4 separate regions of the Homo sapiens genome follow, and all the other regions are linked to region 2. Evidence: fine-mapped expression QTL. A gene starts in region 2. Each other region holds a variant in brackets. All regions are shown on one strand. Distances are from middle to middle.

What was found.
Region 1: its variant is fine-mapped to the expression of PMFBP1 in tibial nerve (GTEx, PIP 0.97). The same link has a PIP of 0.9 or more in thyroid.
Region 3: its variant is fine-mapped to the expression of PMFBP1 in whole blood (TOPMed, PIP above 0.99).
Region 4: its variant is fine-mapped to the expression of PMFBP1 in whole blood (TOPMed, PIP above 0.99).

The regions. Positions count from the first base shown.
Region 1 is chr16:72,868,326-72,872,492 of GRCh38, forward strand. The region is part of intron 4 of ZFHX3 (zinc finger homeobox 3); the gene reads right to left. It overlaps LOC124903715 (a long non-coding RNA gene), which reads left to right and starts at 4,013. Exons shown (of 2, transcript XR_007065111.1): 1 at 4,013-4,167. The variant C/T (reference allele first, on the strand shown) is at 2,112.
Region 2 is chr16:72,169,885-72,174,048 of GRCh38, forward strand. It overlaps PMFBP1 (polyamine modulated factor 1 binding protein 1), which reads right to left and starts at 2,271. Exons shown (of 21, transcript NM_031293.3): 1 at 2,170-2,271; 2 at 1,313-1,384. The coding sequence starts at 1,324.
Region 3 is chr16:72,403,350-72,407,516 of GRCh38, forward strand. All of the region lies in intron 7 of LINC01572 (long intergenic non-protein coding RNA 1572), which reads right to left. Among named protein-coding and RNA genes, the nearest start is that of PMFBP1, 230 kb to the left of the region's middle. The variant A/C (reference allele first, on the strand shown) is at 1,893.
Region 4 is chr16:72,662,589-72,666,755 of GRCh38, forward strand. It overlaps LINC01572 (long intergenic non-protein coding RNA 1572), which reads right to left and starts at 2,382. Exons shown (of 14, transcript NR_126330.2): 1 at 2,304-2,382. It overlaps ZFHX3-AS1 (ZFHX3 antisense RNA 1), which reads left to right and starts at 2,545. Exons shown (of 4, transcript NR_171704.1): 1 at 2,545-2,745. RefSeq lists enhancers at 2,124-2,243, 2,284-2,343. The variant G/C (reference allele first, on the strand shown) is at 2,366.

The DNA.
Region 1 (4,167 bases), 700 kb after region 2:
CCAAGGCCCAAGCTCACATCCTCAGATCATCCTTACCTGCTCTCTTCCCCATTTCTCCCAGGTGGAACCACCTAAAAACAGCATTAAGTGTCTCACTCTAACCTAGACCCTCTGGCATCCTGCACCTTACATAAGCTTTCCCTCACATTCTTCCATCTTCCACTGGGGAGCCAGTCTTACCCTCTAAAACAAGGAGAGATCAGGTGACTTTGCCAGGTCCCCCAGATCTCAGGGCTCCGCACTCCCTAGAGGGGAAAGTCCTTGCTTCTCCCCCTCCACCCGTTCGCGCTCTATCTTTGGCTACAACTACATCCCATGACCTTTATACACTGGCAGATCTTCAGTTTTCAGGGTCCACATCGACAGGCTTCTTAGGAATCTTCTCCTGTTAGACAGTGAGATTCCTCAGGCACAGAGAGCCTCCTGGTCACCTTCTGCACCTCCACCTTGATTGCTTCTCCAGGCTCAAGGCTCAGTAGCCCTCTGTTCACCTCAGGAGTTGTAAGAAACAACCCTATTGTACATACAGCCTTGGAGATGAAAGCAGGAATAATTACCTCCAGAAAGGAAGAGTGGGTCTTGGCAGGAATTCTAAGAATGGACAGGAGAAAAAGCTGACGATGATTTGACATGAAAGGAAGAAAAATCAGAAGGCTGTATTTCCAAAATCCAAATAACAGAGAAAGGGTGAAAGGTGAAGATGAGACTATGCTTTCTGAGCCATCCCAGGGCAAACATCTGCTTTCTCATTCATTTCCTTCAGATAAGGGAGAGAAGACGGAAAGGAAGGCAGGAAGGACTTCAAATTTTTAACAGTTTTAGTAGAGAAAATGGAAAATTAATCAAATGCTATTACCAGGCCTTACATTTAAAAAATACTGGGGAGACTAGAAACACGAAACAGCAAGCCTGGCCCTGGAGCCTTCACTTTCCCTTCTGTGAGCTCTTGCACAGTTACCAGCCCCTCTGCCATCATCCTTCAAGGACCAGCCAGCCAGAGCCCTCGCCAACCAGAGGCTCAGTTATAGCAGAACACACTGATGAGAGCTAAAGGTGTTTTTTTTTTCTTAAATAAAAGATTTAGAAATAAGTTACAATTTATCATAATACCAACTTTCACATTCTAAGACCCTGTTACCCAGGCTCTGTCCAAGGTAACACATGATCTTCCTTCTTATTCTGTAATAGTTTCTTTGTCCACTTCCCAAAGCCTCCATTCCTCGTTTGACACCATGAGTGATCAGTGACATTTTAGAAAATTCTTCCCAGTCTTTCTAAAGTTCTGGCCTGCTGAATTTCCTGATCATCTAGAAAACCGGGAAGGGGAGTATAGGCTAAAAATAAACCTTAATGACCACCACTTTCATTTGCCAAATATTTCTCCCTATTGATTTTTATTAGCCATTTTTTCAAAACAATCTCATTTAAACAGTTCAATTCCTTATTAAATCATCTCCAAGCATATCCTCACTAGATTCTCATTAATTACAAAGGGAAAAATAGTAACTTCAGAATGGATAACCCCAGAAGGAACCACCATAACTAACTGACCAAAGCTGATGCCCGCAATCAAGAGACAAATCAATATCATGTATCTCATGAAACAATACACGAGAAAGAACACGCTTTCTTTTTTGGCATTTCTACCAAAATACACAGCCTGATTCTAATCATAAGGAAGCATCACATGAACCCAGTTGAAGGATACTTGACAAAACAGCTGACCTACACTCTTCAAATATGTCAAGGTCATAAAAGGGCAAGACAGAGGAACAATGCTAGATTAAAGAATATGGGCCAGGTGAGATGTAATCCCAGCACTTTGGGAGGCCAAAGCGGGCAGATTGCTTGAGCCCAGGAGTTCAAGGCCAGCCTGGGCAATGTGGTGAGACATCATCTCTACAAAAAATACAAAAACTAGCCAGATGTGGTGATGCATGCCTGTAGTCCCAGGTACTCAGGAGGCTGAGGTGGGAGGATCACTTGAGCCCAGGAGGTGGAGGTTGCAGTGAGCCAAGATCTCGCCATTGCACTCCAGCCTGGGTGACAGAGCTACAGAGCTAGACCCTGTCTTTAAAAAAAAAGAAAAAAGAAAAAAAAACGGCTGGGCA[C/T]GGTGGCTCACGCCTGTAATCCCAGCACTTTGGGAGGCAGAGGCAGACAGATCACGGGGTCAGGAGATCGAGACCATCCTGGCTAACACAGTAAAACCCTGCCTCTACTAAAAATACAAAAAATTAGCCGGGAGTGGTGGCAGTGGTGGCAGGCGCCCTTAGTCCCAGCTACTTGGGAGGCTGAGGCAGGAGAATGGCATGAACCCAGGAGGCGGAGCTTGCAGTGAGCCGAGATCGCACCACTGCACTCCAGCCTGGGCGACAGAGCAAGACTCTGTCTCAAAAAAAAAAAAAAAAAAAGAAAGAACATGAAAGAGGACAGCTAAATATACCTTGTGATCTAAGATATTCTTTTCATACAAAGGATATTATTAGGAAAATTTGAATAAGGACTATAATAACCTAATAGTTTTATAGCAATGTTAGTTCTCTGATTTTGATCATTGTTCTGTGGTTATGTAAAATATCTTTGTTCTTAGGAAATACACACTAACTTATTTTGATGTCAAGGGGCACCATGTGTGAAATTTACTCTGAAATCCTTCCCAAAAAAATGGCAATGTGTATATTTCTATTTATTCTCCGTCTTTATGGAGAGAGTAAGATTATGAATGCGAGAGAGAAGTCAAAAAAGGAAATGTGGTAAAATGCTAATATTTGGGGAATGCAGGTGAGAGAATTTTCTTACTATGTAAAGTACATTACTTTTCTATAAGTCTGAAATTATATCAACATTTTATTTATTTATTTATTTTTGAGATGGAGTTTTGCTCTTGACGCCCAGGTTGGAGTGCAATGGCGCAATCTTGGCTCACTGCAACCTCTGCCTGCCAGGTTCAAGCGATTCTCCTGCCTCTGCCTCCCAAGTAGCTAGGATCACAGGTGCCTGCCACCATGCCCGGCTAATTTTTTTTTTTTTTTTTTGAGACGGAGTCTCACTCTGTTGCCAGGCTGGAGTGCAATGGTGCAATCTTGGCTCACTGCAACCTCTGACTCACTGGTTCAAGCAATTTTCCTGCCTCAGCCTCCCAAGTAGCTGGGATTACAAGCACGCGCCACCACGCCCAGCTAATTTTCATATTTTTAGTAGAGACGGGGTTTCACCACGTTGGCCAGAATGGTCTTGATCTCCTGACCTTATGATCCGCCTGCCTCAGCCTCCCAAAGTGCTGGAATTACAGGTGTGAGCCACCACACCTGGCCTTTTTAAAAATATTTTTAGTAGAGACGGGGTTTCACCATGTTGGCCAGGGTGGTTTTGAACTCCTGACCTCATGTGATCCGCCCGCCTCAGCCTCCCAAAGTGCTAGGATTACAGGTGTGAACCACCAAGCCTGGCCAAAATTTTAAAAATTTTTTAAGGAATTGGCTGGGCGCGGTGGCTCACGCCTGTAATCCCAACACTTTGGGAGGCTGAGGCAGGCAGATCACGAGGTCACGAGATGAAGACCACACTGGCTAACACAGTGAAACCGTGTCTCTACTAAAAATACAGAAAATTAGCCAGGCGTGCTGGTGGGCGCCTGTAGTCCCAGCTACTGGGGAGGCTGAGGCAGGAGAATGGCATGAACCCGGGAGTCGGAGCTTGCAGTTAGCCGAGATCCTGCCACCGCACTTGCACTCCAGCCTGGGCAACAGAGTGAGACTCTGTCTCCAAAAACAAAAAACAAAAAAAAAATTTCAAGGAATTACAAATTGAAATTAAAATAAGATTCCTAACATCCCCAGTCCAATTATATAATTTTGTATTCTTAAGTATTGCAATTATATATATTATGCATATTTCAGATGATATGCAAATTTCATTTACTACTTATTGTTTCCATATTGAGGAAAATGTTCAATGAAAACAGAGCTCCTATCAGCACTTGCAGTTCCCCTCCAATACAAATAGCCCCAAAATCAACATATTATTCCCCTCTTTAAGGCTTTCTTTTTACTCAGAATTCAACATGTGAAAGTACTCTCTAGGTTCTCAATTTGTTTAGGAGATTACGAGAAAAATAGGAGTTTTCAGGTATTTGTGTTTTGCTTTTTTTGAGACAGAGTCTCACTG
Region 2 (4,164 bases):
ATCATGGAAGGCTAGATTAGTGTTTGCCATAAAAACAAAATTGGCACACCCTGTAAGTATACAGACTAGGATACATATGACATATGTTGGAGATCAGCCACCTATGGAACGTGGGCTGATTTTTATTGGCACCTGGGCAATTTTCACAGACTTTTTTCACTATCATATCATTTGAGAAATTATTCTACTAAGAAGGTAAGCTCCATGAGAGTAGAGATCTTTGTCTATTTTGTTCACTGCTTTATTCCCAGCTCCTAGAACAATGAACGCCTGGCATATTGAAGGTGCTCCAAAGATATAAATTAAATGAAGAAAGAGCCTTCTAGAAAATCCATACGAGATCCTTGTTCCCCACAGAACTGGTATGAAGTTCTGTATGGCTCCAGTAATGCAGCAGGAAAGGAGTGGACTGCCTGTTTCAGAATCTGCTCACCTCTTGGTAGGAGGTCTGTTAAAAAGCATATGGTACATGGGACAATCCTTTACTCATCAAAAAAGTCCCCTTAAATCCTTTCTGGAACAAGGTAGGGCATACATAAACATAGTTTGCTGCTGTTGTTGTTGTTTGAGACAGGGTCTTTGTCGCCCCGGCTGGAATGCACTGGTGTGATCATGGCTCACTGCAGCTTCAACCTCCCAGGCTCAAGTGATCCACTTGCCTCAGCCTCCTGAGTGGCTGGGACCAAAAGAGCGTGCCACCACACCTGGCTAATTTTTTTTATTTTTTGTAGAGACAGGGGTCTTACCATGTTGCCCAGGCTGGTCTTAAACTCTTGGGCTCAAGTGATCCTCCTGCCTCGGCCTCCCAAAGTGCTGGGATTACAGGTTTGAGTCACTGCGCCTGGCCCCATAAACACAGTTTGACCAAAATATTAAACTAATCAGACACTCCATTTTCATATCATTCCAGATAAAGAGAGAATGTTAGCAACAATAGTTAATATCGATTAAGTGCTTTCTACATGCACTACCTTTGCTAATCCTCATACCAAGTCTTTGGAATAGGTGATCATCATTCATATTTTCTAGATAAGGCAAAGGAAACTTAGAGTAGGTGATCACAATTCATATTTTCTAGATAAGGCAAAGGAAACTTAAAAGTAGGAAACAAACTCAGTATCATACTGCTGGTAGATATGGACCCAGACCCACCCAGCTCGAGTCTGGGCTCTTAAACACGATGCTCTGCTGCCCACCTCTGTCCATGATATTTTGTGATGCTTATTACTGGAATTTTGAATCATAAAACATGAAAAAAGTCCCTTGTAATGAATATTCAACTCCATGCATGTAGAGGAGTTAGGAGCCTTACCTCATCTTTCATTTCCTTGGCAGCTCTCAATTCTCCTTTAACCTTTAGTATTTTCTGAGCTTTGTTATAAACCTGAAAAAGTCCAAGTATTTAAGATGGAAAAAGTATAAATGAGCCTCTGCCCTTTAAAGATTTTCCCAGCTGGATCTATGCCCTCAGCAAGAGGTTTGGAAAATTTTCCTGAACTGTTAGCAATACCCACTTGCTTACCCATCTGTTTGTGTTTTTAAAAGGGTGTTAAAACCTCCAGATGGCAGGACCATGGTTTTACATCTTTTCCAGAAAACCACTACTTGGTGAACCAAACAGTTTCTGAATTTACCCTTCTTGGAAAGCAAAAAGTCTGAATCGAGTTTACTTTTTAGATTTCTATGTACTCTATGGCTCAGATATAGCTAATATTATGTACTTATTATGAACCAGACATGATGTGCATGACCTAACTTCATTCTCACATGAACCCTGGGAGGCAGGGACTACTACTATCCTCATTTAAAGATAAGGAAACTGAGGCCCAGAGAGGCTAAGTGACTTACCCAGGGTCACAGAGGCTCTCTTACTACTCTATGAGGAGCTTCCATTAATTTTGTAACTATTCATATGAAATATCTGATGATATGGTGTTTTTGAAGCATCAGCTTGCCATAATGTTGATGCTCATAAAGTTAGGAAACATGTGAAGTGCTGAGACTTATCTAGCTAGAAAGCCTCCCAGGAAACCAAAGATCTTTGCACATGTATGTGCATGTAAGTACAGGATGATGCATTTGAGGTCATAATGCACTGAGCTTATTAAAATCATCTCATTCATTCTGTTTTTAACCCTAAGAATAGAGGAATTTCCACCAGGAACTTACCTGCAGAATAGTTCAAGGAATGAGAAGCTATCAAAATACTCATCCTTTGTAACAAACCACATCCCCTATCCCTAATATAAGCCAAGAGGAAGAAAGAATGTTGGTGATATGTGGAATCTGGAATGTTTTATGGAGCTGAATTCTGATTTCCTGCATTGAGTACCCTCTGAAGTCTTCATGCACAGAGGTGCATCATGGAAATGGAGGTGTGGCTCAGGCTCACCTGGTGGGGACAGGCTAGGTGATGGTGTAGTAACAAACAACCCCCAAGTCTCAGTGGCTTACGACCGTGAAGGTTTATTTTTTACTCATGCTACATGTCCTTTATGAGTCAGCTGGGGCTCTGCTCCACATTGTCCTCAATATCCTCGTAGTCCTCAGCTGGTGAACTTCTATTATCTAGTATGTTGCCTGTTGCCATGGTAGCAGAAAGGGAACTTGGTGAATCACCTACTGGTTCTTAAAGCGGAAGTGAAACACTTTGCTTCTGCTCACATTTCATTAGCCAAAACAAGTCACATGGCCATGCCTAACTTCTTCCTTTACCTCCTCAAAGAAATATAGGCATATGTCAGAGAGATTGCGGGTTTGGTTTCTGACCACCAAAATAAAGCGAATATCACAATGAGACAAGTCACACAAATTTCTTGGTTTCTCAGTGCATAGAAAACCTATGATTACACTATACTGTGGTCTACTAAGCGTGCAATAGTATTATGTCTAAGAAAACAAGGTGCATAACTTAATTAAAAATACTTTGTTGCTAAAAAAATGCTGATGTGGACATAAGGGAGCACATGCTGTTGGAAAAATGGCGCCAATAGACTTGCTTGATGCAGGATTGCTACAAACCTTCAATTTGTTAAAAATGCAATATCTGTGAAGCACAGTAAAGTGAAGAGCAGTAACACGAGGTATGCCTGTACTGGCGAACTCACAAATGACTTCCACACTAGTCAAGCAAGATTAAAAATAGCGTGGCATAAAAGAACACTAAACAGGATTCTAGGCCACCAAGCTTCTAAACCTGGTTCAGCACCTCACTGGAGGAGTGGCCTTTGCAAAGGCCTTCATATCTCTGAGGCTTCATTTCTGCTTCTGTAAGCTAGGAAGCTATAATAAATGGCCTTTAGAAGTCTTTCCTAGCTTTAAAGTTCACTGATTCAGTGCTCTACCACGATGGACACCTTTCTTTAGGAGGAACTATGAACTCACCCAAGTATCATACAAAAAGTTGTAATGGAACAAATGTATCCTTGAGAATCATACTTCTTTGCAGGCAAGCCCACTGGATAGTCAGGAGATGATTCTGAAATCAAATGAAATCTTGTCCAAAAGACAGAGAAATGATTTTCTAGATTGTGATGGTTTCATCCGCTATGGAGTTACACAGCTGTAGTTGCAAGAGCCAAGAGCATTTCGAAGGAAAAGTAGAAGGCATAGGTTCTAACATTTGCATGAAAATATATTGAAATTTACTAAGTAAGGTAAGTAGGAAGAAAAAAAGAGAGCTGGAGTTTGTTCCATGAAGGAGATGTCAGAATCTTCAGTCATTAACAATAGCAGCAGGCAGTTTGGAAGGGCTTATGATGAAAAAACTGGAAGTGTTATATGATAAGTTTTTGATACATTTGACAGTAATGTTTGCCAGATGGATAGGGAAGAGTGTTTTGGGGGAGCCCCACAGGCTTTACGAAATGCCATGTGAACCTTCACAGTGCTGTCTGACTGAGGAGTATGGCTGGACAGATATTTTGTGGAGGAAGGGCTCATCCCAGAGGCAGGGACTCTCTACCAGATCCCCGGCTACTGACTCTCTGAAGCCAGGACTTTGCTCATGTCTCCCTCTTCTTGAACCCTTGTTCTTACATATTCTGTTCTGCCTCTTGCGTCTCTGTTGAGACCTTCATTTCTTCATGCCTTGTCTACTGCCATCTGCCCAGGCAACTCCTTTTTTGTATTCAAAACTCCTGCCATCTGCTTTTCAAAGTAGGA
Region 3 (4,167 bases), 230 kb after region 2:
GAAAGGCAAAAGGCAAAAGGCAAAAGGCACATCTTACATAGCGGCAGGCAAGAGAATGAGCAAAGTGAAAGGGGAAACCCCTTATAAAATCATCAGATCTCGTGAGACTTATTCACTACCACGAGAACAGTATGGGAGAAATCCTCCCCATGATTCAGTTATCTCCCACCCGGTCCATCCCACAACACGTGGGAATTACGGGAGCTAAAATTCAAGATGAGATTTGGGTGGGGATACAGCCAACTGTATCATTTGGCCTTAACTATCTCATGTGTAGATGATTGCAGAAGGAAGCGCTAGAAAATTCTCATCATCTGACTTTTCGTACACCAACTAAACTTTGAGATTATTTGTACAATATTATTCTTCAGTTCAAGTATCCCATTGGCTACGTATTAATCAGTAAGTTTATTACTCAAGGTACTTCATTGTTAGAACTACTGTTTTATTAACTACGAGTTTATTTCCATAAAAGATATTCCACTTCAGCTGCTCACTATGTTTGCTATTCTCAGGTTTGACTTTTCTTGCCTTCTAAGCTTTTAGGCCATATGGTATAACATTGCCTAAAGAACATCTTCATTACTGTGATGAGTGGCAGATCATTAAAAAAGGGTGTGTGTGTGGCTAGGGGTCAGTGGGGAGACTTCTGCTGCTGATCATTTGTTCTACAATTAAATAAATAAAATTCAACTTGATTTTTTTTTGGCTTGGTAGCCTAGAATTTATATCACTTCCCTCTTTCATCCATAAAGATACATAGGCTTCATCCTCTTCAAAATCCAGCTGAGAAGTTAACTTCAGGAATCTTTCCTGGACTGATTGTTCATGGATAAAATTTGTCTCTACTTAGTATCTGTGCTCTTTATTCAGAATTTTTAAGTGCACAGTTGTTGATATGGTATCATTTTCAAGTACTTTGCAGTCCATATATAATGTTTGTTATATGTGTATACACACATCTGTTATCATAAGCCTAAGATACATAATAATGTCATATTCCTTTTAATTTTCAAATTAAATGTCTCTATGCTTTATTTTCTCCCCAGGATGTTTGCTTTGCTGACAACTTCAAGACCTCTAAGGATGCTTATTCAGACTTACAGGTCAGTTCTGGTAAGCATCCTCTGACTAGTCAACCAAGCAGTTGAATTCTTTACAGCTGTTACTAATGTCACTGGCACAAGATATCCTTATTGAAACAAGGAGAACCCAGCAGCCCCAGCATGTTCTTTGTTGTCACTATTTAAATACTCTGATGCCATAATTCTTGGTCATTGCTGGATAAGCAACAATAAATTGGGCATGGCTTTTTTCTGAAAACCTGCCCAGTGCAAGCCTGCTTAGGGCTGAGCCTGTGAGTACCTCTCAATGCATGGGAGGAGCCCAGCTGTACTTACCTACATTTCTTGTGACTTTGGCTCACAGCCAGGTCTTCACGTACCAATGTATGAGGCTCACATCTTTGAATCTGGGCATGCATATACAAATATTTTCTTTAAGGGTACCCATAGTACCAGGGTGAATAAGTTTGAAGGACTTTCTAGACTTAGTCTCTGTCCTTTATAAAACCATCAGATCTTGTGAGACTTATTAACTATCACGATAACAGCACAGGAAAAGCCTGCCCCCATGATTCAGTTACCTCCCACTAGGCCCCTCCCACGACATGTGGGAATTATGGGAGCTACAATTCAAGATGAGATTTGGGTGGGGACAAAGCCAAACCATATCACCATGCCAGCTTCTTTCCCCAGTGTGGCTCCAAGAATGCTGACAACCAAACTCATAATTTCAAGACAGGAACTTAGAAAAATCCTCTCTGAAATAGCACCATCATAAAATAAGAGACTTCGTAATACTGACATTTGGAGATCCCTAATAAAATGACT[A/C]GTCATTCTGTCTAACATTGATTTCAACAGATAACAATCCACATTTATGCACAAGAAGATTTCAATTGTCTTTTTAGAACCTCACCCTCAAATATGAATGGAAAGTCAAGGACCAGATATCTAAACAAAGTTCCTCTCTCCATACACTAAAAAGCTGAATAAGGAAAAAAAAAAATTGACGAAAAGAGAACAGGAAGCAGAAAATAATCTCATAAGACCCATAATCAATATTGTTAAATAAGAAAATATTTTGATTGCATTCATGAGACAAGAACGAGAGGGCATAAAAAAGGAACATTCTATGTGCAAAAGTATTATCCAAATTTTAAAATTATGATGCCGTTACACTTTTGGCAATGGTAGATTGACTTGTATTATGTTAACCTTCCAATAGACAGCAATACATTCTGGGGAAAAATATAAAAACAACTATTTGAAGGCACTGGGACAACTTAAAGCAGGTAGAAACTGAAAGGGGAACTGCATTGATTCTGCATCTGGCTTTTCACTTAAAGGCTCTTTCCAGTCAGTCTACACCACATGAAACGGCTGGAACGCAAGCAGAAAGCTATAGTCTTACCTGATTTGAGGATTCAAAGGAAAAAATTTTGGGCTGATGGAATTGCTAGAAAATCATGGGAAGACCTCAGACAGGAGAAAGCTGAGGGCCTGGAGGTATAAAATCTTCATATAAACCCCCTCAAATCCTTGGCTGGTCTTGATTAATGCATGTGCAGAGGACCTGGCAAAAAACAACAGCTGGAAGGCTAAAAAAAATGAGTGAAGAGTTTAGCTCAGGGAGGAGTTTCATTTTTGAGCTCAGTCCCTTGAATTGCTTGCTAGAACAAAATCAGCAGTATTTAAAGATAGCCATAGCCTCCACAATAGCACAATTAAAAACTACTAAACACATGAAGAAACAGTGGATGGAAAAAAAGTAAGTTGGAGAAAGCCAAAGAAAGGAAGCCGTGAACTTGAAAATACATCAATAGAAAATATTCAATCTGAAGATGAGACAGAAACAATATTGAAAAAAACCTACAAAGACTCACTATTCTGTGGGACTATATTTAAGTGGTTTTAAGTTATATTTAAATGTATTCTCAGAGCTGTGAAAATGCAGTATAATAAAAGATTTGAGGAAATAATGACCAAATTTTTCCTAAATTATGAAAGACATAAATTTATAGATACAAGATCTGAACTCCAATTAAGATAAATACAAAGAAACCACACTTAGGCACATTTTCACCGAACAGTTGAAAACATAAATAAAGAGAAAAGCAGCCAGAGGAAAAACAGCTCCATTATAAACAGGGGAACAATTATACAAATTATTACTGATTTCTCATCAGAAACAATGGAGGTGAGGAAATAATGGAACATCTTAAAGTGCTGAGGGAAGCAGGAACTGCCAATCTTACAATCTCTACCTAGGAAAACAATCATCTTAAAAAATGAAAGCAAAATAAATAAATTTTCAGAAAAAATTGAGAGAGCCTGTTATCAGCAGAATGGTTCTAAAAGAAATATAAATTCTTCAGGGTGAGAAAAATCAGATGAAAATTTATAGAGAAAGAATGAAGAAATATGAAATGGTAAATACTTGGGTAACTATAAAGGACTATACTTTTTCTTATCTTTAAAAGAAAATGACTAATGAAATATAATAACACCTTCTCGGTTAATGTATATATTACCTATAAGATAATATCACAAAGGATGAGATGGTAAATAGAAACAGACTGTTACATGGCTCTAATTTTTTTTTTTTTTTTTTTTGAGACAGAGTCTCATTCTGTCGGCCAGGCTGGAGTGCAGTGGCACAATCTTGGCTCACTGCAACCTCCACCTCCCAGGCTCAAGCAATTCTCCTGCCTCATTCTCCTGAGTAGCTGGGATTACAGGTGTGTGCCACCACACCTGGCTAATTTTTGTATTTTTAGTAGAGATGGGGTTTCACCATGTTGGCCAGGCTGGTCTTGAACTCCTGACCTCAAGTAATCGACCCGCCTTAGCCTCCCAAAGTGCTGGGATCACAGGTGTGAGCCACTGCACCTGGTCACATGGCTCTAATTTTTAAAAAATGCCTTCATTGAAATACAATTCATAATACAACCTACCCATTCCAAGTATACAATGTAATGGCTTTAATTATATTCATAGTAGGGTAAGAATGGAAATGGCAGCCGGGTGCAGTAGCTCATGCCTGTAATCCCAGCACCTTGGGAGGCCAAGTTGGGTGGATCACTGGAGGTCGGGAGTTCGAGACCAG
Region 4 (4,167 bases), 490 kb after region 2:
ACAATGCAATGCCAATCTTATACAAACTTTTTCAAGAAGTAAAGAATACAACACATCCCAGATCACTTAAAGATGTCAGACACCATTACCCTAATTCTAAAACCAGACAATCAAAATAAAGCAAAACTGAAGACCAATCTCCCCAAAATGGCAACCGAACAGTGAAAAAAAATTTAGTTAAAGCCATTCCTCACATCATATATAAAAGCAAATTTCAGGTAAGCTAATGTTCTCATGTGAAAGATAATGCCTGAGATGGTTAGGAAGAAGATTATGAGATTATATTCAGGTATATGCTGGTAGAATTCACCATAAAATTATTTTAATATAAAACATCCAAAAAATTAAGGCACACAAACTATTTTCACTCTTCATGTTGATCAAGAATTTTCCTATTTCTTGTTAATTCAAAAAGACTCTGGATGCAATACCTTGTGAACTTATTTTTTGGTATGCCCCTGTGCTCATATACTACCTTACTACCTTTATCTCTCTGTTTTTTGTTTGTTTGTTTTGGAGATAGGCACGATCATTGGCCACTGCAGCCTGGAATTCCCCGGCCCAAGTGATCCTCCCACCTCAGCCTCCTGAGTAGCTGGGAGCAAGGCGAACACCACCACGGCTGGCTAATTTTAAAATTTTTTTGTAGAGATGGGGTCCGACTATCGTCTTGAACTCCTGGGTTGGTCTCGAACTCCTGGGCTGAAGCAGTCTTTCCACCTCAGCCTCCCAAAGTGTTGGTTGGGATTACAGGCGTGGACCGCCACACTTAGAAATGACTTTTCTAATATCCTTAAATCAGAGCTCATGTAAAATTTTCAGCCTTCTCATTCCACCTCCCTCCGAACTACAAGTCTTAAAACTAAGAAATGACAGCCATTCGGTAGAAGTTAAAACACTGTTTCGCTGCTTATTTCTACTTAAAAAAATTATATACATAGATATATATTATGTAAATATATATAATTATATATATAGACATACGTGTGTGTATATATATAAATAAACGTGTAGAATTGGACTGGGGTCCCACTAATATCCACATTTCAAAACAGAATCTAAAACTCCCTAAAACAGGGTTGGGCTCGGCGGCTCACGCTTGTAATCCCAACCCTTTGGGAGGCTGACACTGGAGATCAGTCTGAGCAACAAAGTCAGATCTCTTTTCTACTAAAACAAAATACAACTCTCTAAAACTAATACAAAATTTTGTGTGTATGTGTCATATTCTGGAGAAAAGCTCCAAGGTTTTCCTCTGGGTCTTAAACAGGACTAAGACCCCCCACCCCCAAAAGAATCTCTGTTCTAGAGGCTAAGCATATAGAAGCTCATACTGCATTATCAAACTGGAAAGTTAATAGAGGATTTTCATGGTCATATACAGGAGAGGTGGGGAAAGCTGTCTATTTAGACTGTAAACTCCTAAAATGTTCATAAATCTCAATGGAAATTAAATCCACCGGGGTGGGAGAAGTATCACAATAGACAAAGAAGCTAAAGGTTAATGAAGAGAAGGTTTTAATCAGTGGTTACTTTTGTGCTTGGGATCAATCCTCAGTTTGTCCTCCAACGTAACTTTTGGCATTATTCATTTCAAAGTCTGAACAGTATCCATAAACCCAATACGAAACCTATGGATCCAGAGGGTCCGACCGAAAACAAAACAATTATGTTTCCGATGTGAACGCATCAATAGCTTACTTTTGTAGCGCTTTATAAAACGCTGTCACTTGCTGCTTTCCACGTCATGATATTCCCGGTCGGGAAGAGTAGGACAGCAGCATCTTTTATGAATAAGGAATTTTTTGGATTCAATTTGTGAGGTGTGGGACGCTCACCAGGTTGCGCGAAAACCATTTTTCTACATCGTCAAGTGCACGCACCCCGTGTCTCATAGTATTAGTGATGAAGACGAGGATGAAACTACCAAAGACATCAGTGGGGAGTGAATTATACTTGGGGGAGGTGTAAGCACGTCGAAATAAGGAAGCTGAGAGACATTTTGTGAAAGAGGGAAGGTAGCGTTAAGAGGAGCCTTCCATCAGGGGCAACAGAACGGGGGCAGGCGTGGCGTCTCTGGGACTGCCGGAAAACGACGTGAGGGAAAAACTCAGAGGCTACGAAAAGGCGAACAGACGGAGGGCCTGCCTCAGGGGAGCTAAGCAGCTCGCCTGAAGCCCCCCATCTGGAAATGACGTGTTTAACTCGGCGCCCCTGCAGCTCCGGCCGCCCTTTTTTGTTTAACTCCGCGCCCCTCCAGCTCCGGCCGCCCTTTTCGTCGCTCTCCCCTCGCGGTCGCTCACCCCTGAGATCCCTGGTTCCACTGAGACGCTCAGCTTCATTCGGCAACTCGCGGACACCAAGC[G/C]CCACAAATTCAAATACGAGATCTAGAGACGCTGGGTCTCAAACGTCTCCCAGAGTGAAAGACAGAGGAACCAATCGAGGCTCGGCTGACCTCAGACGTCTAAGGCGATAGGCGTTGCTAAGAAAAGGGGGTGGGACGATACCCAGTTGCCAAGACGACGGCTTCCGGGTGGGCGGCTTGAGGTGGCTTCCGGCCGCCAGGCGAGACTCCGCGGGAAAACTCCCTGCTAGAGAGACTAGGAGATTTGGGGCTGCGGCCGTTTCCTCCGGAGCACCCACGGGACTGTGTGCTGGGGTCCCTCCACCGGCTGTGTCCTTTATTCTTCTTTCTCACCCAACGATTTACCTGAACGGTTATAAAGTGCACGTTATTTCCCTAAGGTAAGCGTGTGGTAGCGCCTCCTCCTCCTCCAACAGGGGGGTAACAGAAACCTGCTGTCAACTTTGTTACCCAACATAACTGTACTTAACCACAAAAAGTTGAAATTTTGGATCTTTAAACATTCAATAACCTCTTGCTGTGTGAGGTTTTTTAACTGCACTACATACATTTTGTAGTCTTTAACCATTGAATGCGATTTAAGTTTACAATGAAATTTAACGTTCTGGTTGTTTCTGACCCCAAATTTCATCTGAACCAGTTAATGGACGAAGAACTGAAATTTTATTTTCTGTGACAGTCTCATAGGTTCTCAGACTTAAGTTCTTAATCGCCCATAAATCTGAAGGCAGGTGTTAAAGATGAGCAGGTGATTTGAGCCCAGTCCATGCCAACACTCAAACTAATTCAGCTGAGACTCCTTTCGTTAGGAGCATTATTTTAATTTTAAAAATTTTAAACCGAATGGTAAGCATGGCTGCTTTAGTTTCAGTTGTGTCTCATTTGATGATGATAGTCCCACACAAGACGATCTCATTTGTCAATGAAAGTAAACATTAGTGACCACACAGCTTTCTGCAGATAACTCTTTAAACGAACATCTTTTATCAGACCACAGAAATCATTGTTATTGTCACTAAAATGTAAAAACTAAAGCAAAACTTATCTGCTTATCAACAATTTCTTCCTCCATAGCTAAGGTAGGGAAGCATTTATGAAAGCTTAGATCTATATGTGTTTGGGATCCTGCCAACCCCTTTCTTAAAATTCCATCTTCAAAACTCCCTGCTAATGAGCACTTTTCCAACAGCTTGGATGAAACATTCTGAATAATTCGTCAGCCTGAAGGTTAGAAATTTCATTAAATAAAAAATTAAATACACAGAATACTTAAGTATGAAACATTAATGAACTGAGTAATACATTCTTAAGAAGAGGAGGCACTTAGGAAAACACAGGCCACCTGCATTGTGGAGCCATTTAATGTGATGAGATTTGATAAATGGGTAAGAGATCAAAAAATGCCCAGGGTTTCAAAAGAGAATGTTCCATGAGCAGCTTACTGCCTACATAGACCATTTGAAAATCAAACCAACTCAGCAGAAGCCCAAGAGGCCTTCAGATGAACCCGAGTATCCTTTGGATGTCAGTGTTGTACTGAACAAAGTCAGTTGAACTGTTATTTATCTGACAAGAAAAAAAAATGCCTAAATTTTGTAAGGACTTACACCATTCATTTAAAAATATATAGTGATCTTAGAGGTTAGAAAGCACAGAAAAGAAACTTGAACATAGAGGTACTTAAAAGGAGAAAAATAAATTTCCTCCGGTAGTAGACATGTATTTGGCATTGTTCACTGTTATCTCCTTGATGTCCTCTCTCCTCAGCTTGGCTGAATCCTACTTACGCTTTTAAGACCCAG